Linked DNA regions of Homo sapiens. The protein of the gene in region 2 interacts with the protein of the main gene of each other region in a pairwise test. Each region holds a gene or a part of one and is shown on either strand. Other genes may lie near its edges.

Region 1 (7,028 bases), on a different chromosome or scaffold from region 2:
AGTAAATTACAAGAGCTCTGCCCTTTGATATCGAATCTCTGTGAGCGAAGATGTAACCAGAACAGTGTAAATCTAGAATTACTTTCCTTACGGTATGCAATATCTAATTATTATGTATTAGTTTACATATATATAGGGGATGTAAGAATCTTTATATTTAAAGGATAAGAAACTTGATCAGGTGAGATACAAGATTTGAATAAAAAAGCGATTTTTTAGAAACATTTTAATTCTACAAATTCAGTTGCTGGCTTTGATATGTAACTTATTCAGATTTCTCTTCCATAGAAGGCTTTAACACTAGAAGCCAGTTCTCTACAAAAGAGAATGTTCTACCAAGTGTGTAGGCAACAAAGCCCAAAAGTTCAAGTTCAAAATACTGTTCTACAGCCTAAGATCCACCTAATATTTCAGATTTGACTCTTTTGCTCCTTTCCTATAACTTCCTATAACTTTTTCATAGTGCTCTAAGCAAAGTAAGTTCAAGGATGGACTCACCTCAAGTTTCCTTCTCTTACTTTAGAGGACCATATAATCTTATACCTGTGTCATCCTAATTGAAATGTATTTTAAGTGCTTGTGGGAACAAGAATAACGGAAGACCGTTATTCCATTAATGGAATAATGGGGAACATGAGAAGGACCATATTCAGTCAATTAGGGATGATACTTCTGCCTCAACAGTATTTGCGATGTGTTAAATGGCCCTTAGCCATCAGATCAGTATTTTTAAAAACTCCTACCTAATTAATGTTTTTTGAGAAGAAGCATATTATGAGTATAGCTCAGTATTCTAAAAAGAAAAAAACCTGAAAAAAAAATCAGCCATCCATTAACTAACCCATCCTGGTAAAGCTACACAAACAGATTCTAGAGAAAGGAAATTTGCACAGATGGAACATCTAATCTGGACTGACATTGTCAACAAGTTATCTCAAATGATCCTGAGAAAACACTGGTACATGGTTTAGAGACAAGTCGAGCTCATGTGACTAGTAAATGGAGAGGCACAGTATACATCTACTTTTGTTGGCATTTAAACACTCTCGGCTTTTTTACTCTCTTTCACCACCATCAGGTCCAGATTCCAGCTTGCACTGGAATATTTATTGACCCTTTGATAGAAGAGCTACACCTGAAACATCTCTGAAGTCTTTTTAGCATCCTATCCTGCCCATGGCCTACTACACAGTATGTGATAAGTTAATGTTTGTTGAATTAGTTAAATATACGTATTAACCTACTTTCAGGGCTGCCCGCTGTAATGCCTAGAATAGGGCAGGCACTTAATAAATGGTAGTTAACTTAGACTAAATGTTGATCCACCAAGACAGAAACATGTTACATATACCTCTTGTTTTACACCATCTTCTACTTTTTGTACCTCTGTGTTATAAACCCTCTATCAAGTGTTGCTTCTAAAGACAATGTCCAGAATGGGACGTAGGAACTGCCACTGGGCAACAGGCAGACACTGGGTTATATCGTCATCCTGTTTCTGAATCCTGGTTTTTCTTATTATTATTCAACCACAGCTAAACTTTCTGATCTCCTTTTTTCCGTTTTTTCCCTTTACCCTAACTTCTAGCCAAACTAAGTGATTTGACATTTCCCCACTCAAGCCACAACTTTTTCTCTTATGTGCTTAAAAAAAATTCCTGCGTAGTCTCTCTTGGAATGTCTTATTCCTTGCTCCCTCCACTTCACCCTTTTTTTTTTTTTTTTTTTTTTTTTTTGAGACGGAGTCTCGCTCTGTTGCCCAGGCTGGAGTGCAATGGTGCCATCTCGGCTCACCGCAACCTCCGCCTCCTGGGTTCAAGCGATTCTCCTGCTTCAGCCTCCCGAGTAGCTGGGATTACAGGCATGCTCCACCACACCCAGCTAATTTTTGTGTTTTTAGTAGAGATGGGGTTTCACCATGTTAGCCAGGATGGTCTTGATCTCCCGACCTCCTGATCCGCCCGCCTCGGCCTCCCAAAGTGCTGGGATTACAGGCATGAGCCACCGCACCCGGCCCACTTCACCCTTTAAGCCAGTTGAAATGCTCCTTGCCCTACTCCTCCCTTCTCCTTTTCTTTCTCCCATCCAAGTACTAACCAGGCCCAACCCTGCTTAGCTTCTGAGATCAGCCAGGATCAGGTGCATTCAGCGGGGTATGGCTGTAGACTTCTCTTTCTGAGCTGTGTCTTCCTCCTTTCCTCCCCAAACCCACATTTGAATTCTGTTCTAGCTCCTGCTCATTTGCCACCTCTCCCACAAAGCCTTCCCCAGTTTCCATCTTCTCCCTGCTTCCCTCATCTCAGAGGAAAGCTCTTCATTCACAGAGCACCTGGTTTGGGGTCCATAGTTTGTTGTCCCTCAGTATCCTTGGGGAATTAGTCCCAGGACACCACCCCCCCGCCCCTGATATCCATGCATGCTCAAGTCCCTTATATAAAATGGTACAGCATTTATATTATAACCTATGCAATATTCCCATGTACTCTTTTTTTTTATTTTTATGTGTTTAGAGATGGGTCTCACTCTGTTGTCCAGGCTAGAGTGCAGAGGCATGTAGCCTTGAGCTCCTGAGTCAAATGATCCTCCTGCCTCCGCCTCCCAAGTAGTTGGGATTACAAGTATGAGCTACCACACCTGGCCCATGTACTTTAAATCATCTCTAGATTACTTATAATAACTAATGCAATATAAATGCTATGTAAACAATTGTTACACGGTATTGTTTAGTGCATAATGACAAGAAAAAAATGTGCATGTTCAGTACAGACACGACCATAAATTTTTTTTTCAAATGTTTTTGATCTGTAGTTGGTTGAATCTGAGGATGCGGAACCCATGAACGTACACGACCAACTGCATATGGGTTTCTAATAACAGATTTGTGGATGAAGCCCACCCAACATAATGCAACATTTCAAATGTATCTTAGTCAGTTTTTCTGGGGCAAAGCCAGCCTAACAAATCTCAAGAATGTTTGAAAAATTCTAGCTTGAGTGAACGTTGTTCTTCTAGTGACTCAAATAAAGCAGTCATTGTGTCTGAGGAGTCCTAGTGGGGTGGCAGGGGTGGGGCTAGGAGTAGTGGCTGTTTGTAGCATGTTTTATATCACATTAAAGGGCTGGGTATGCATTTTAGGCAATAATTCTTACTCTTATTGATAGGAGAACTTGTATTTTTTATTCATCTACCTTATGATGGATAACTGGTTTACATCTCTTCATCAGGTTTACTTCTTACGTGTCATTTTATGAGCTGACTTTGAATATATCTTCAGATTTTCCCTGCCTTTACACATGAAAACGGTTTTGATACAGCTTTTTCATTAGAGAATGGCAGCTTTTCCAGGCCAGGGTGTCTGTGTCTGACTCCTCGCCTTTCATTTTACCCAATACTTGCTTAAAACATCCTCCCTGAGTCCGGTACTTTTTTGCCTCCTCTCCTTCCTTCCACCCCACCTCTTTTTGTCACCCTCCTGCGACTTTGGATCTCCATCCTTGGAGTCCCTGAATCTTTTTTGTGGTTGAAAGACTACACCCAAAGGACACAGACTGATGAGGTCACTTCTGCCCACTGTCTAGTACTAGTGAGACCAAGAAGAAGAAGGAGGGAAAACTGAAATGGAAGGTTTGAAAAAGAGTGTGTTAGTGAAGGAAGTAAGAACAGTGCTAACAGAATGCAGCAAAACAGAAATGACTTCACACTTCTGGCAGTGAAGCAAATTCTCATCCATCTTGGGTTGCTTCTCTTGACCCTGCCCACCTCCTCCCCTGCCCTCCCCTCCCGATGAGAACTGCAGGAACACCTGTGCCCATGCCAAGGAAAAAGGGCAGGTGAGGAACACAGGGATGGGGCTGGGACTCACAAGCTGCTCTAAGCTGCCACAGGGTCTGGAATTTGTTGACATTACATGGTTAACTCGGTATCTCGATGCCTCAGTATCTTCTGCAAAATGTGGAGGGAGATCCTTTCTTCCTCAAAGGTTGTTGTAAGGCTTAAAGAGCTACCACATTCGTAAGGCATTTGGAACAGGGCCTGGTATATAGTAGACATACCCATGGTAGTAACTGTTGCTAGACTGGGTAAAAGGAGAAGTTTCTTAAGTAGGCAAGAAAAAAACTGACAACAGTTATATTTAAAAGAGCAAGCAACCGTGTCAGCCCAAACAAGTGTGTTGCAAGAATGAGCACAGAGGGCCAAGCTCAGAAAAGCGAGTGTTTGACCTCTCTGAGACCTCCTTTATATGTCAGCTTTTTTATTTGTTTCAAATTTTGCATAATCAAACTGGTTACTGGGAATTATTGAGTTCATATAACTTCCCTAAAATCTAAGAATAATCTATAATCCCATGCCACCAGTCCCGTTAATAAAGACTTAGGGTCTGTCTTTACCCATTTGTTCATTTGAAATTCCCCGTCTTTACTTCCCCCATAACCAGGAAACAGATCTACACCCATGTTTAACTTATAAAGAGATATAAGTGAGTTTACATAGGTGGAGATCTTGTACCTGGATTCACATTGTAGGTTTTATTACCCAGCTTTCCCCTCTATCCCAAAGCCATGATTGCCATAGTGGAATTTAAAGTCTTTGGACTAACACTGAATCAAGAACTAACTCTACAAATGTATTCTCTGCAGGAGGATAAGAATTCCAAATGGCTTCTAATTGTTGCCCATGGCTTGAAATAAAGTTCCATATAGCTAAAGCCCCAGCACAAAAACACTTGAAGACAGCCATTAGGTAGAATTTCTTTTCTTTTTTAGAGGTCTTATATTGGAAATGTAACAGTTGCAAAGATATCTAATGTTTCACCTTAAAATGTGAGTTATAAATTCACATTTCACATTGCCTCCTTCCTCCTTGAGCAAACAGACTAGGCAATTAGTACCAAATAGTAACTAGTTATATTTCTTAACACCGATTATTGTAAGTAATTTATTAAGAAAAAATCTAGGAAGATCAAATTATAGCTTTTCCAGTAAATCTGGGGCTTTTTATTCCTGATCTCTCTCAACAAGGCAGTTTGGCTTCTGAAGATTGGTCCTAGCTATACTTAACAGGAAACAGATGACGAGAAGAAGCCAGGAAAAAATACTTGGAATATAGAACAAAATGCAGCATAAAGATGGTACAGAAGATTTTATCTTTCTTTCCTTTAGTTATGTGTGGACAGGAACTAAAAACTCTCCCACGTGGGACTTTATTAAGTAATAAAAGTTTAAATGTAAAAGATATAAAGGAATGAGGATATAAAGGAAATTTTTTTAAAAACTGTGACTCACCGGAGGAGCCTTATATAGTCTACTTTCTAAGCATATCACTTTTAAAGGGATCATTATATTTTCATGATGCATGGGGATATTCCAAGTATTAAATTGATTTTTTAAATGAAGAAAATTATCAGTTCAGTCTTGTTTTCTATGTAGGTTTCACTACAGTATTTTATTTCCCCCGCAAGGAAAAAACCAGAGCTAGAATGGAATGATTAAATTTCTTAGTTTTCTTCTAATCTGTTAGTCTTTCCATTAAATTATACTGCCTTCTTATATAGAATTTCTGGGTTTGTTCTTGTTTTGGCAATAATTGAAGTAAGAGAGGATGATTTTATGGTAGAGGTTTGATTCCATTCTAGATTGGTGTTTTTCAGCTATGTAGAACACAATCCATTCATGGTTCAGACAACCGTTTTAGGAGGTTTTCATGTCCAGCATTAAAAAAAAAAAAAAAAGAATAGAATTGGGCATTCATATATATATATATATATGAATATTTATTAATAAAAGTTTAAAAGATATAAAGGAATGAGGAATGCATATATATTATATATATATATACCAAATTAAAGTATCATAATACTAATACAAGGATTAGTATCGTTTTATGATACTTTATTATATACACTAAGGGTTAGTCTTGTTTTATGATACTTTATTATATACACTAAGGGTTAGTCTTGTTTTATGATACTTTATTATATACACTAAGGGTTAGTCTTGTTTTATGATACTTTAGGTTGGTATACATACATATACTAAGAATGCAGACATGTCCATGGAAGTTGGCAATATTCAGCCCCCAGCAGGCCCCAGTCAGCAGGACAGGGATTAGGGGAGTCAGGTGAGGCAGGGCTGTATAAGTGCAGGGTTGGAGCCTGTCTTGGTTTACCGTTTTGACATTTTGTTCACTGTGGATTTTTTTCAGTAACTTTGATTTTTTAAAAATATTGCATCAAAATATTATACTGACTACGGAGTTTTTGGTACCCCCTTAAATTGTGCACCTAAAATAAGTGGCTCCCTTGTCTCCCCCTAGTCCCGGCCCGATCAGTATGTTTTATAGAGGGAATGGTGAGTGTTGGGGAACTAGGGAGCCCATGAGGAGGCGGCCCAGAAGGGGAGGAGGAGCTGATGGTGTGTCTGATGTCTCCTCCTTTCTCTAGGAAGCAGACAGGAGGTGAAGTCTTCAGGGTGGGGGGGACAGAGCCTGGGAGGGGGAGATTTAGCATGGCCGCTGAAGAGACTGGGAAAGGGAGAAGGTTCGGGACAAGTTCAGGAACAGTCACGTAGCACTGAAAACTGCTCAAAGCTAGATAGTGCCATTTGTGGTGACGCTGCCTGCCTGGTAAGTCCCATTTCCCCAGCAGCCCTGGAGGTGTCATAGGAACAGGAAGATGGGAGGGCGCTGGGGTCTGGGGTTGTTGGGGTGGGAGGGCAAAGGTGTCCAATGATTCTGCATCTGAAACGGGGGAGGTGTGTGAGGAAGAAAGGTCAGGAGACTGCTGGGCAGGGTGGGGTGGCAGAAGGTTCTCGATGAATATTTAGAAGTTGCAGCTGAGGAGTGAGTGTACTATAGAGTGAGTATCCTGGAATTTGAGGTCTCAGAAGAAATGCAGTTCTCAGTGAAGCCATGTAAACAACTTCCTGGCTGATAAGGTGTCTTGAGTGTTGGGAGATCACATGATCAAAATGGTATACACACCATAAGGTGTCCTTAGACTTGAGTGTGGTGTAAGTCTACTGAATAAAATG
Region 2 (7,028 bases):
AAACTCACCAAAGTTAGGTAACAGCCAGTAAGTGCCTGGTCAGGACTTGAACCTGGGTTTTTCTCCAAAGTCTTGGCTCTGAAAGCTGGCCTCCTGTTCCCTCCCCCACCCCTTGTTTTTTTTTTTTTTTTTTGAGATGGAGTCTTGCTCTGTCGCCCAGGCTGGAGTACAGTAGCACTATCTGGGCTCACTGCAAGCTCTGCCTCCCGGGTTCATGCAATTCTCCTGCCTCAGCCTCCTGAGTAGCTGGGACCACAGGTGCCCACCACCACGCCTGGCTAATTTTTTGTATTTTTAGTAGAGATGGGGTTTCACCGTGTTAGCCAGGATGGTCTCAATCTCCTGACCTCGTGATCTGCCCGCCTCGGCCTCCCAAAGTGCTGGGATTACAGGCATAAGCCACCGTGCCTGGCCTCCTGTTCCCTCTTGAAGCAGATTTATGTGTATCAAAATAACAGTAGAACAGTGAAATGCTTGATTAAGGTTTATGAAATACTTTAGTATTTATTCTTTTTTTTTTTTTTTTTTTTTTTTTTTTTGAGATGGTGTCTTGCTCTGTCACCCAGGCTGGAGTGCAGTGGCGCGATCTCGGCTCACTGCAAGCTCTGCCTCCTGGGTTCACGCCATTCTCCTGCCTCAGCCTCCCGAGTAGCTGGGACTACAGGTGTGCACCACCATGCCCAGCTAATTTTTTTGTATTTTTAGTAGAGATGGGGTTTCACCATGTTAGCCAGGATGGTCTCGATCTCCTGACCTCATGATCTGCCCGCCTCGGCCTCCCAAAGTGCTAGGATTACAAGTGTGACCACTGTGCCTGGCCCTCAGCATTTATTATTCTTACAGAGAGGACATATAGTTTCTTGACCTTAGATCTGCAGGAAAATCAGTTATTGTGTTTAGAGAGAAGCTGTCAGCTTCCTTAGGCATTGTGGGGAAAGCTGTCTACATTCCACGTCAGAAAACATGAATTCACAGCCTGGTGCCATTGCCCTCATCCTTAGCCTTGAGGATGACAATCTTTCCACAAAGACTTTTTTTTTTTAAACCTCTTCCTCTGGGCCAGGTGCTTCACTAGACAGTGGCCAAGGACCTTGCGGTTTGGCTTTCTATCTGCCATGGGGGTTACAAGCACTGGTTCTGGAGTCACAGGCCTAGTTCAAACTCTGGCTCTTTCTGTGGGATCTTGGGCTCCACCTGTTTAGTTTTCTCATCTGCAAAATGGGAATGATAACAATTTCAAAGGATTGTTGTGAGGATTAAATGAGGGAATGCTTGTAACATGTGGCATGTGGTAGGTACTCAGTAAACGTAAGTGCGTTCTATACTGTAAAGTACTATGCAAATGTAAGAATGTTTTACTTGACTGTAATATAAGTATTACATTACTATGATGTGCAGTGGAAATGTTCTGTTATGCTTCTTACTTTTATCCATTATTCCTTTTGATCCATCAGAGGCCAGCAGAAATAGTAGACGAGGAAGAAGATGGAGAGAAGGCAAACAAGGATGCAGAACAGAAAGAAGACTTTTCAGGAATGAATGGTGACCTTGAAGAGGAAGGAGGTAGGGAGGCTACAGATGCCCCTGAGCAAGTCGAGGAGATTCTGGATCACAGTGAGCAGCAGGCACGCCCTGCTCGTGTAAATGGAGGCACCGATGAGGAGAATGGTGAGGAGCTGCAGCAGGTTAATAATGAGCTTCAACTGGTCCTAGACAAGGAAAGAAAGTCTCAAGGAGCTGGCAGTGGACAAGATGAGGTATTTCTATTGCTTTTGCTTGCTTATGTGAATGCATGAATATGTGTGTGTGTACATGCGTGCATTCAGAGAATTAATCAAGTGTTTAGGACTTGTATTGAAACCACTTGTGGTTGAGTAGGAAAGATCCAATACCATTTAATCCCTTTACTTACTAGTTATTTCAACCATTTAACAATACTGCCATTGACCTGACAGTTTGTGTCTGCCCTTCTGCCATTCATACATTTAGCCATTGACCCATCCATCTACTTACCTCCTGCCTAATTTTACAAGAAAATGTACAGAGCCTTCTAAGAACATACATAATCCAAGAAAGAAATATAAAAAAGTAAGAATAAGTTAAGACCAGAGAAGGTAGAAACCAAAAAAGAATATCAAGACCAGTGAGACCTAGACATGAAATAAGGAATACTTTCTCTATTATGAGTGATTTCTTTGATCTCTAGAAGTACTGAAGTTAGTTTGCTTTTTTCTACTTTAAATAGATTAATCAAATTAAGCATTCAACACATTAGGCACTTGGGTAGTATACAGTTCTATTTATTATACAGAGAGGATAAAGAAATATGTGGTGAAAATAAGAGAACAGAAAAAGTAATATCTGGTGAAATCTCTCTTTTCCTAGCCTGTTCTTCTATGTCTGATCCTGGAGTTGGATACTCATCAGTCCTGGCATTCTTCCACGGGACAATATGATCCTGTTGCTGCCAGGCTCAAGTTGAGTCTCACAGCATAAGAGGCAGGATGTTCTCCATAACATTCTCACCATCTGCTTATCCCATCCCTTCCTGTCTATCCGTCAGTTCAAGGTCCACCTCCCTCAAGGCTGTAACTGCTGAAGTGGGCCTTGGACTACTCATTCCTAATACCCACTATGATCACTGAGGTCTACTTGATTATTTATTATTGATGCATCTGATTTATCTTGCTTAGGGAAAGCAAGTTTAGCGGTGGCAAAATGCAAAATGTTCTGGTGGCCAGGTTTCAGTAACAGTACGAAGTTATCTGCAATCCACTATATGAGTTATTCAAAATGTTCTTAACATCTAAATGAAAATGCTCAGCATGTCTCTTATCTTTTCTCAAGGTGAGATAATCATAGTCCTATTCTATAAGAAATTCCCCATATTAGTTCTACATAGTCCTCAGCGTCATTTATATGGCACCTGTAATAGTAGGTTTCATACAACTCTTTGTTGTAGTAGCTTTTGATGAAAGCTTACAAAATGAAATCAAAGTGTAATTCTGTGTGGGACTAGATAGTAAGATCCAACATGATTTTTTTCCAGTGGTCTAGCTTAATTCAACATATCACATAAATAGATTTTACAGAAATGAATGGATTGCCTGTCCTTCCATCTTCCATAAATATAACTTTAAAAAATAATCCTGTAATTTGCAATGACATGAATAAACCTGGAGGACATTATGTTAAGTGAAATTAGCCAACCAAAGAAAGACACATACCATATGATCTCACTTATATGTGTAATCTAAAAACAGTTAAACTCATAGAAGTAGAAGGTAGAATGGTGGTTACCAGGGACTGAGTACAGGGTTGGAGAGATGTTGGTCAAATGATACAAAATTTCTGCGAGAAAGGAGGAATAAGTTCAAGAGATCTATTGTACAGTAAGGTGTCTAACGTATAATAACAATGTATTGTATACTTGAAAATCACTAACAGAGCAGATTTGAAGGGTTCTCACCACAAAAGATAAGTATGTGAGGTAAGGTGTATGTTAATTAACTCAAGCCATTTCACAATGGATACATATTTCAAAACATCATTTTGTATGCTATAAACATACAATTTTTATTTGCCAATTATGACAAATGAATATTTTTTTAAAGGGGAAAAATAGGCTTTTGATAGGAATTGGGCATCCGTCAAGATCAAGGTTATGTAATTTGGCATTGACCTGTGGTATGTAATGAGAGTGAATCTAAATTCTTGGGAATTCAAATAAGGAAGTGCCTAGTTTGTGATTTTTTTTTTTGAGACAACATCTAATTAGGGACTTTTTTTTTGTGACAAGGTCTCACTCTGCTACCCAGGCTGGAGTTCAGTGGCGTGATCACAGCTCACTGCAGCTTTGACCTCCCGGGCTCAAGTGATCCTCCCACTTCATCCTCCTGTGATAGCTGGGCCCACAGGTGCCACCATGCCAGGCCATATATACATATTTTTTAATATGGAGGAAGTCTCCCTCCCTGTGTTGCACAGGCTGGTTTTTAACTCCTGGACTCAAGCGATCCTCTTGCCTTGACCTCTCAAAGTGATGAGATTACAGCCACGTGCCACCATGCCCGGCCTAATTAGGGATTAGTAACAGAGCAGTTACTCACAAAGAGATTTAATCTTATTTGACTCATCTCTTACTTATAACAATGATATATTTTATCTTGTTCTCCCTAACATATTAGTATAGGTATATTTTAAGCATACCGAAATATATGAGAAACCAAATTTATGTGAATTGTAAGTTAAAAATGAATAGTTAACTTTTACAGAAGGACTGTCTACTAATAAAATGACTAGAAATTCTGTTCACCGTGTAACATTTTGTTCCATGTAACAATTCTTGTACAAAGCGAGATATGATTGTAGGAAAATACCAGGAAATACAGAGAATTTACAAGAAACAATTGACATTTATTGAGATTGAACTTGTACTATATTCAAGATACCATTTGAGACATTTCACAAAGGAACAGTGTGAAATAAGACACGGCACCAGTCATATATATATATAATTTCTTCAAAGCATCAGTCATGGCCTGTGTGGTTTGGGGAACCTGGAGCTACTCTGTCCCCCAGACTGGGTGCCCTTGTGGGGGCTGTGGAGCCTCTAGGATTTCATAGAGCAGACTTTGCAAACCTGCTGGTTCTAATCTCACCCACTCAGTTTTCAGTGTAGTCGGGGAAAGGTGAGTTGTACATGAGACAATGTCATTATTAACAGGAAAAACCCAAGTGGCAGGAGCAATAGTTGTTGTTGGAGAAATGCTGCCTCCACATTTTGATTTTCTGTCTTTTTCTTATCTACTTGCTACTTGATGGTACTTGGTACCATATTCACAACGAATTTGTGAATTCTAGGAGGAAACTAAAATTAGGAGAATGTCCCTGAATTTTTTCTTCCTTTGTCTCTGAAAATGCTAAACTGAAAAGTATAACTAAATTGAAGAAAAGCTCAAAGAGAAATCAAGAAAAAATGAGAAAAATAAAGCCTGCAGCATACAAAATGAGTCAGGGCCTTTCAAGCACTAGTAGATTATGAACCCCAAAAGGACTTTTGTACAAGTGTTGAGAAAACAGTATGTCCACTGGGTAATGATAGACAAAAAAACAAAGGGAACCCCAGGAACTCTTTTTAGTTAAATATTTATATAATTAAATAGAATCTTGAGTAATTTTTTCTTTATAAATGTCATTACCTTTGTGAACCAAACAGCTGAATACCTTTGTTTTGATCTATTTTCTTCTAGGCTGATGTAGACCCTCAAAGACCACCAAGGCCAGAAGTAAAAATTACCAGTCCAGAAGAAAATGAAAACAACCAACAAAACAAGGACTATGCTGCCGTGGCTTAGAACATTTTTAAAAAGAGAGTATATGGATCGCAAGAAAAATGAAGGGTTATCATACTTGAAAGATAAGCACATAGTTATTGCTGAATATAATGTGACACTATGGTCGAATACTACCTACGAATTATAACATTAGAAGCCTAGTGGAAAGACCAGATAACTTTAAATGGCTACTAAAGGATAATTACTTACTTTTATTGCATGTGTTTTAAAAGTCATATAGAAATATTAAATAAGACGGACAGAGGAGAATTTGCACTGGAAGACAATTGCCACTTGTAAAGGATGAAAAATAGGATCACTCTTATTGTACGCTTTATTATAAGTTTAGAAGGCAGTTTATTCTAAATAATTTTTCTCTAGGAAGGCGTAGAATTTTAAAGAACTGGTAATAGGAAAGCATGTACTATTTTCTTAAAGCAATAAACTCTTGAATGAACAGATTGCGATTTACTTTCAGACATAATTTGGAGATGGCAGTAGATCAAAATGTGTCCATGACTTGTTAACATGCCTTTCTTTCTTCCTCCTTAGCCAAAATCCACCTTTGAACTACAAAGACAGAGCAAGGCGTTCATTTTGGTGGGAGGAAGCATTGGTTCAGAGTGTTAGTGACTAGTATCGCCATGCCGTCACTTAAATGCTTTCAGGCTTGCATGCTTGTGGCTCCAATGGCGCACACTCAGGAAGGAATTGTAAAGGAGCACCCAGTTATATTATAAAGCCTGGATGTATGGTTTGCAGATAATGGAAATCCTGTGGATTTTCACTGATCCAGTCTATCTTTACCAATAGTATCTCTCTCTTCTCCCTTATGTTATTAGAGAACCTGATATTGGCTATTCCAAAGATTAAATTATTTTCAAATAGTTTTCAACAAAAATAAAAGTGTATTAGGAAGAAAAAAGTAGACTATATGAAGAGTTTGTGACTGCTCAATTTAACTTGTTTTTTGCCTTATTTCTATTAAGACTGTTTTACTATGTTTTTGCCCTAGGGATATCAGCAAATATTTATTTTTCCTAGCATGATATAGTTAGAATTTCAAGCAGATTTCTTTGTAATTAGAAGGCATCTGATAGAAATTGTAAAACTTTAGAAGTTATTATAATGAAACCAATTCCTGAATCACAACTTCATGGACTGACTAAATTGATTTATAGTTGCCTTGTGAGGTATGTATGGGGAAAACATAAAAACATAATTAAAACATAATTTCGTCCTTTTTATGAATTCTTAAGAGATGTTCTTCCATAAATATAGAAATAATATATTTTTCTTAAAGGATATATTTTTAATTATGTGGAAGTTGTAAGCTTGAAATTTTAACTTCTAGTGCTTTTCTAAAATTCACAATTACAAGTTTAAAACATTTTTTCTCTTCCAGGTTTCATTTGGAATAAAGAGTTGGCAGTTATATAAAGCACTTAATAATACTATAGAAAATAGATGTGTTTTTTCTTAATATGATTTTGGTATTTTCCACAGATCAGAAGTGTAAACAGAGAGATAATGTAACAGTATTTGGAAGAGATAATGACACAAGGATATAGTGATCTGGGAGCATGAATTAGAAACAGGGTACTATGTTTCTGGTGTAAAATCTAAATTGTGCTTTCTACTAGCGTTACTTTTTCAAATGGGATGATATAAAGCACTGTGGGCTATAAGCAA
Region 3 (7,028 bases), about 150 Mb from region 2:
CAGAAGCCTGACAGATGATCACAAGAAGAGATTTATTTATGTGAGGGACTTCTACTCGCAGCCAATATGGAGTAATTCTTATCAGAAACTACTTAAAGTAACACACAAAAATGTATGGAACAATTGTTTCCATTGATTTAGGTGTCAGGCAGGACGAGAGTGATTTCCAAGAGATGAGAAATAGGTAAGGTGAACCCCAATATTGCCCCCACCTTAATTGCCTGGTGAGAGTTTCCAGGCTACAACACAAGGAAAGGCCTCCTTTATTTCAAAAGGAGTTAGGAGCCTGGGAAGCCAAGGTAGCATGAGACTGGAGAGCAGAGTATTAAGACAGGGATGCACAAACCGCCCCAAAGACCTACAGAGGGTTTCCCAGAATATTCAGCTGAGTGCAGCAGTGCATCTGGTGAGGAAGCTTCTCACCAAAGGTGGAGAGTGGAGGTGGAGAAAGAATCACCCAAAAGGAACAGAAAAAAAATCCTTGGACATGTTCCCACCAGAAAAAGTGGAAAATCATGAAAAATACAGGGCTTTGGTTAGCGTGCTAAGACGTGTATTGCCTCAGTAGTGGGAAAAAATAGAGAACAAGTTCTCTGATCTGGCTTATCAAGGTTGAGAAGCAAGGCTAAAGAGGATTAAACTGTTTCCAAATGTCTTTGTTCTAGAAGAAAGCTCAAGAGTCTTAGGAATACAAAAATATCCAGCCTATAAGAAGGTAAAATTCACACTGTCTGGTCTTTAAATATTAATAGACCTACAGAAAAGCACGAAAATAAAGTTCAAAATTGAAGAAGCAGTAAAAACAGCCCAGAAATTACACAAAAATAGAATTAGTATAAACAGACATTAAAGTAGTTAAGAGAGTTATTAGTTTTCGTCAAATTTAATCATATGAAGTTATTATAATTACATTCCATATATTTAAGAGTGTAGAGAAAGACTGAGCATGTTAAATTCAAATTGAACTTCTGTAGATGAAAAATACTATGTCAGGGATGAAAATACACTAAATGGTATTAACAGCAGATTCAACAGTGCAGAAGAAAGGACATTTAGAGATGTGGAAATTGGGGGGGATGCTGAAAAAATATTACACGATGTCAATGAGCTTTGACAGAACTTAAAGTTGCCTAACGTTCTTATAATTTGAGTCCCCAAAGAGGTGAGAGAGGACAGACAAAAAGTACTGGAAGAAATAAGGAATGAGAAATTTTCAAATCTGTTGAAAACTATAAACCCACAAATCTAAGAGGCTCAGTGAACTCCAAGCACAAGACACATGAAGAAAATTATGCCAAGACATAGAATAATAAAATTGCTTGAAACCAGTGACTTAAAAATTTAAAGGCAACTAGAACAAAGGAACGTTACACACATAGAAACAGACAAAATGACAGCATACTTCTCAGAAACAATGCAAGACAGAAGACATCGAAGCATCATCTTTAAGGATTGAAAGAAAATGACTAACAACCTAGAATTCTATACTCAGCTAAAATATCGTTCAAAAAGCAAAGGTAAGACTTCCAGCTTCCTTAAAGTCCCTACTATGTCCTAACAAGTAAAAAGCTGAACAAACTGAAAAAAGTGAGGTCACAGGACAAACTGCTGCCCCCAAAAGTAGATTAACAAGCAGCAGTTTGCTCTGTGACCTCACTCCAGCCCTCCTTAGCCATCCTGTGTGACTTAAGCAAGTAGGGAAAAAAACAAAAAACTCAGAAACATATGTGAAGTTCACAGTCCAGAAGCACAGGTTCACTAAAATACCTAGTCATACAACTACAGAATGCTTCCTCTCCGTTAATACATTACCAGCACATTGCCAGAGGCCTTGTTAACAGCAGTTTCTTTACCTGGTGAATCATGTCTGGCTATCAGGAAAAAAATTAGGCATACTAAAAACAACAACAAACACACAGAGTGAGCAGCAGAACCAGACATGGCAGGGATGTTGGAATTATCACAATTTAAGTAACTATGATTAATATGTTAAAGGGCTGTAGTTGACAAAATAGCATGCAAGAACGGATGAGCAATGTAAGCATAGAAATGGAAATCCTAAGAAAGAACTAGAAATGCTACACATCAAAAAACACTGTTACAAAAGAAGAAATCTCAAATTTAAAAAATATTTTGAGCTAAATAAAAATGAAAACATACCAAAATTTGTAGAGTGCAGCAAAAATGGGTTGGAAGGAAATGTATAGTATTGAATGTGTGCATATATTAGAAAAGAAGAAAGAGCTAAAATAAGCCTCAAAGAAACTAGAAAAAGAAGAACAAATTAAATCCAAGAAGAAAAGAAATAATAAAAATTATAGCAGAAATTGATGAAATTGAAATCAGGTACCAACAAAACCAAAAGCTTTTTCTTTGAAAAGATCAATAAAATCTATAAGCCTCTATGCAGGCTAAGAAAGAGAGGACACACATTACTAATAGCAGAAATGCAAGTCAGGATATTGCTAGAAATTACATGAACACTATAAATATAATGAAAGAATATTATGAACAATTCTGTGCCCAGAAATTTGATAACCTAGATGAAATGGACCAGTTCCTTGAAAGATGCAATTTCCCAAAAGTCATACAAAAAGAAATAGATAATCTGAATAAGCATATATCTGTTTTTAAAACTTGAATCAATAACAGCCTTCCAAAGCAGAAATCACCAGGTTCAGGTGATTTCCTTGGTGAATTCTACCAAGCATTTAAGGAAAAAGTTATATCAATTATTACAATCTCTTTCAGAAGATAAAAGCAGAGAGAATACTGTCTAACTCATTCTGTGAAGTCAGCATTACCCTAATACCAAAGGCAGACAAAGATGCTACAAAAAAAGCAAATTACAGACCTGTATCATGTATTAACACTGATGCAAAAATTCTAAACGAAATACTAGCAAACTGAATTCAGCATTTTATTTAAAGGATTTGACACCGAGGCCAAGTGAAATTTGTTCCTGGAATGCAAGGATGGTCCAACATATGAAAATCGATCAAGGTAATACACCACATTAACTAAATGAAATAAACCACATGATAAATCTCAATTGATGAAGAAAACTATATGTCAAATTCAACACTCTTTTATTATAAAAACACCCCAAAAACTAGAAATAGGAGGAAACTACTTCAACCTAATAAAAGCTCTATATGAAAACTGCACAGCAAATGCTGGGTGCAGTGGCTCATGTCTGTAATCCTAGCATTTTGGGAGGCCAAGGCAGGTGGATCACGAGGTCAGGAGATCAAGACCATACTGGCTAACATGGTGAAACCCCGTCTCTACTAAAAATACAACAACAACAAAAAAATTAGTTGGGAGTGGTGGCATGCACCTGTAGTCCCAGCTACTCAGGAGGCTGAGGCAGAAGAATAACTTCAACCTAGGAGGCAGAGGTTGCAGTGAGCCAAGATCGCGCCACTGCACTCCAGCCTGGGCGACTGAGCAAGACTGTCTCAAAAAAAAAAACAAACAAAAAAAACTTCACAGCAAACATCATACTCGATGGGGAAACACTGAAAGCTTTTCCTGTAATATTAGTAACAAAGCAAGGATGTCCACTTTTGCCACTTCTTTTCAACATAGAGCTGGAAGTTCTAGCCAAGCAATTAGGCAAGAAAAAGAAATTCCTGGCTATTAATAAAATGAAGCTTACTGCTTTAACTTAAGAGGTTAGAGCATTTATCTGGGACATATTGGGCACTAAGCAAATATTTCATTAATGCATATTGGATGTCACAGAATGGATGTTTCATGTCAAAAGCATGAACTGATATATATATCAAATCAATGCTCTTTTGGTGTCTTTTCACCTTAAGACTTACGAATGTGCTATCTAAATAATTGTATTATTTAAAAATAAGTAAATGAAGTAAAATAAAATTTTAAGACAATGAAGGATAATATTTTCATAATCTCAGGGTAGGGAGGAAGAAAGGTTTTCCCTATATCTCCATCCCATAGCCACTCAGTTGCCCTCCCTGGAGGCCACTCTTGTTTCTAGTTCCTTTGGATCATCCATGGATATTCTAAATATATGCATGCAATTTGTATGTATATGTTTGTGAGTATAGATAAAAGAATAAATAGTATTCCTATTTTTTTTTGCCAAATTGATAGCCAGGAGTGAATCTAGGATTTAGCAACCACATTATTGTAGAAATCTGTTTAACAAATTTCCAAGCTTTGTGTGAGCCCTGTCCCACTGTACAGGCTTATTTAATCTGAAAACTCATTTACAGTTTAAAAAGTAATCTTTCTGCCTTTCTCTCTTCCCCTCTCTCTTTCTCCTCCAGTATACACAGATTTTAAGAGAAAGACTGAGAGAGTCAATTCACAATGTTCAGTATGTGGAGCCTCCTTTTGATGACTCAATTGCTGATATAGGTAAAGAATGGAAGAGTGCCCTGGCAAAATTAAAGTTTGCTAATTCATATAGAATGGAGCCATTGAAGAAATTCCAAGCTCATTCAGTAGAAACTAAAGTCCAGCAGATACTAACAGTAGGTTGATAAATATATATGATAGCAGTATTGTATGAGGGTTCTACAGAGAAACAGAAATTATATATACGAAGAAATTTATTCCAGGAATTGGCTCATACAATTGTCACTAGAACCAGAAGGTATTGTGTCATTGGTGCAGGCACAACAAGTTAGTTAATCAGAGATGTGTAGTCTGTCTGCTAGGTGTCCAGTTCTGCTCCTGGTTTGTAAGAGTAATGCTTTATAGTCCACAAGCCATGTCCATTTCCTTCAAGCTATACATTAATTTATTAATAAACATGGTTAGAAATCTTTGATTTCATTTTCCTGGAGGCCAGAGAAAAATTAGTGGAGTGAGAGACTAGAGGGGAGGGCTGGAAAGAAGTAGTTTTAATATGAGCCCACTGAGCAGGGCAGTGACTTGGTACAGGTTCTGAGTCCAAGTAATCTTCAGTATAAGAAAACCAAAATCTGAATTTTAATAAATGTATAAATTTAAAAAGGTTTCTTTCCTTTACCTAAGAATTTCCTTTACCTTCTAGAAGTCTTCTTTAGAAAATCTCCTTGTGTCTATTAACTGTTTGGCAGAGTAGTCTAGTAAATTACAACTTACAGCTTGTATCGCTAATGAAAAGTAATTGAATATAATTTGAAAACCCCAATAAATATTCCTCAAAATTGTTACTGAAATAGGTAAGCATAAAATTTATTTAATATTATTTAGTTAGGAATATATTTATTTTAAAACAGTTATATATATATTATTTAGACATGTTTTCTACTTGAATTTTTATATAGAAAATATTTGGTTTGAAAATAAAAGTATTTTTCTTAAATTTTCTTAAAGGAAAGTCTTAAAGATGTCAAATATGATGATAAAGTATTCTCTCACTTGTCACTTGAATTGGCAGACCGCATACTGTTAGCAGTCAAAGAATTTGGGTACCACCGTTATAAGTTCATTATAAAAGTATTATTTATTCAAAAGACTGGCCAAGCAATAAATGTAAGTACCCCATTGATACAGGATCTAGCAATTAGAACTATAAGGCATCTCCTCCCTAGTGATTTGATTTTTATTGTGATGACTCAAGGGCATGCCATAGATTCTGAGGTACTTTTTGAAGGAAAGTATCATGTTGTTAAGTATATTTATTTCACTGTAAATTATTTGAAAAGTACAAACCAGCTGGGTTCGTTGGCTCATGCCTGTAATCCCAGTAGTTTGGGAGGCTGAGGCAGGTGGATCACCTGAGGTCAGGAGTTTGAGACCAGCCTGGCTAACATGGTGAAACCCCGTCTCTACTAAAAATACAAAAATTAGCTGGGCATGGTGGTGGGTGCCTGTATTCCCAGCTACTCGGGAGGCTAAGGCAGGAGACTCACTTGAGACTGGGAAGCAGAGGTTGCAGTGGCCCGAGTTCGCTCCACTGCACTCCAGCCTGGGCAACAGACTCAAAAAAAAAGAAAGAAAAGTACAAACCTAGAAGTAGCAATTTGGTACTACTAATTTATTAAATTGCACTGCTATTCTGTTCCTTGATCATATCAATTTTGACAGTTTAATGTCATTTAAGTTAACCAGTAAATTTATTTTGGGCACTAATAGGTGTTAGGTACTAAGGAAAATCAAGGAATGATAAAACACGGACCATGATTCTCAAGGAGATTTTACTCTACTTAAGGAGATAAAGCAGCACAATTTAGAATTCAGGGAAATAAAATGATAGGGATAATGTAAACAGCCTGGGTTTTGGAGTCAGATTGCCTCTGCCACACTTGCTGGCTGTGGCCTTGGCACAGTTTCTTCATCTATAAAATGGTGATGATAAAACTGGCTTCCTAGAGCTGTTGTGAAGATTAAATGAAATTATCTGTATTAAAATCCTTAACATAATCACCAGCACAGAGCCCTCAATAAACAGCAAGGTAATTATAAACATTATTTATTAATAAAGAGATAATATCACTAGGCTGTGTAATTATGTAAGGAGTTGGTAAGGAATATGTGGGAGTTGGAGAGAAAAGAGAGAAAAAGCTGTGTTTGGAAGAATCTGTAGAGGTTCCATAGAGGAGTGGACTGCATGATGAAGCATGGGGAGGGGGACCTGGACTGGCAGAGGGGTACTGGCGAGAGAACCGCCAGTCAGCAAGAAAGAACCGTCCTGGCTCCCATGGAGAAGAGAAGCTGCACCACATATGACATACAGACTTAAGAAATAGGGACGTTGTAGATGATAAGTGCTACAAAGAGAACATTAAGGTAGGGATATGACAGAGTAGCAGAGTGGCTACTTGGGATTGTTTAGAGAAGGGAGAACCCTCTGATGTTCAGATAAGAAGGAACCAGCTGTACCAAAGAGAAGGGAGAATGTTCCAAGCAGAGAAAACTTCAAGTGCAAAGATCCTGAGGCAGGGATGACTTGGAGTGCTTGATATGTAACAAGTGTAGCTGGACTAGTAGCTAGTAGATAGTGGCATGATGTGCAGTGGGGGAATGTTTCAGCTTATATTATTGTATAACAAACCACCCCAGAA

Evidence for each region. Proteins that work in one complex are often made in the same cells at the same time.
Region 1: the proteins of DCDC2 (region 2) and B3GNT5 interact in binary tests that used the Homo sapiens proteins (3 or more experiments, as listed by UniProt).
Region 3: the proteins of DCDC2 (region 2) and DYNLT2 interact in binary tests that used the Homo sapiens proteins (3 or more experiments, as listed by UniProt).

What each region holds. Positions count from the first base shown.
Region 1 is NC_000003.12:183,256,250-183,263,277, forward strand, and holds part of B3GNT5 (lactosylceramide 1,3-N-acetyl-beta-D-glucosaminyltransferase), read left to right. Parts: intron 1-1,078; exon of another isoform or gene 1,079-1,191; intron 1,192-2,808; exon of another isoform or gene 2,809-7,028. UniProt on the Homo sapiens protein: Beta-1,3-N-acetylglucosaminyltransferase that plays a key role in the synthesis of lacto- or neolacto-series carbohydrate chains on glycolipids, notably by participating in biosynthesis of HNK-1 and Lewis X carbohydrate structures.
Region 2 is NC_000006.12:24,173,059-24,180,086, reverse strand, and holds part of DCDC2 (doublecortin domain-containing protein 2), read left to right. Parts: intron 1-1,454; coding exon 1,455-1,757; intron 1,758-5,252; coding exon 5,253-5,357; 3' UTR 5,358-7,028. UniProt on the Homo sapiens protein: Protein that plays a role in the inhibition of canonical Wnt signaling pathway. May be involved in neuronal migration during development of the cerebral neocortex. Involved in the control of ciliogenesis and ciliary length.
Region 3 is NC_000006.12:169,741,548-169,748,575, reverse strand, and holds part of DYNLT2 (dynein light chain Tctex-type protein 2), read left to right. Parts: intron 1-4,301; coding exon 4,302-4,508; intron 4,509-5,337; coding exon 5,338-5,496; intron 5,497-7,028. UniProt on the Homo sapiens protein: May be an accessory component of axonemal dynein and cytoplasmic dynein 1. Candidate for involvement in male sterility.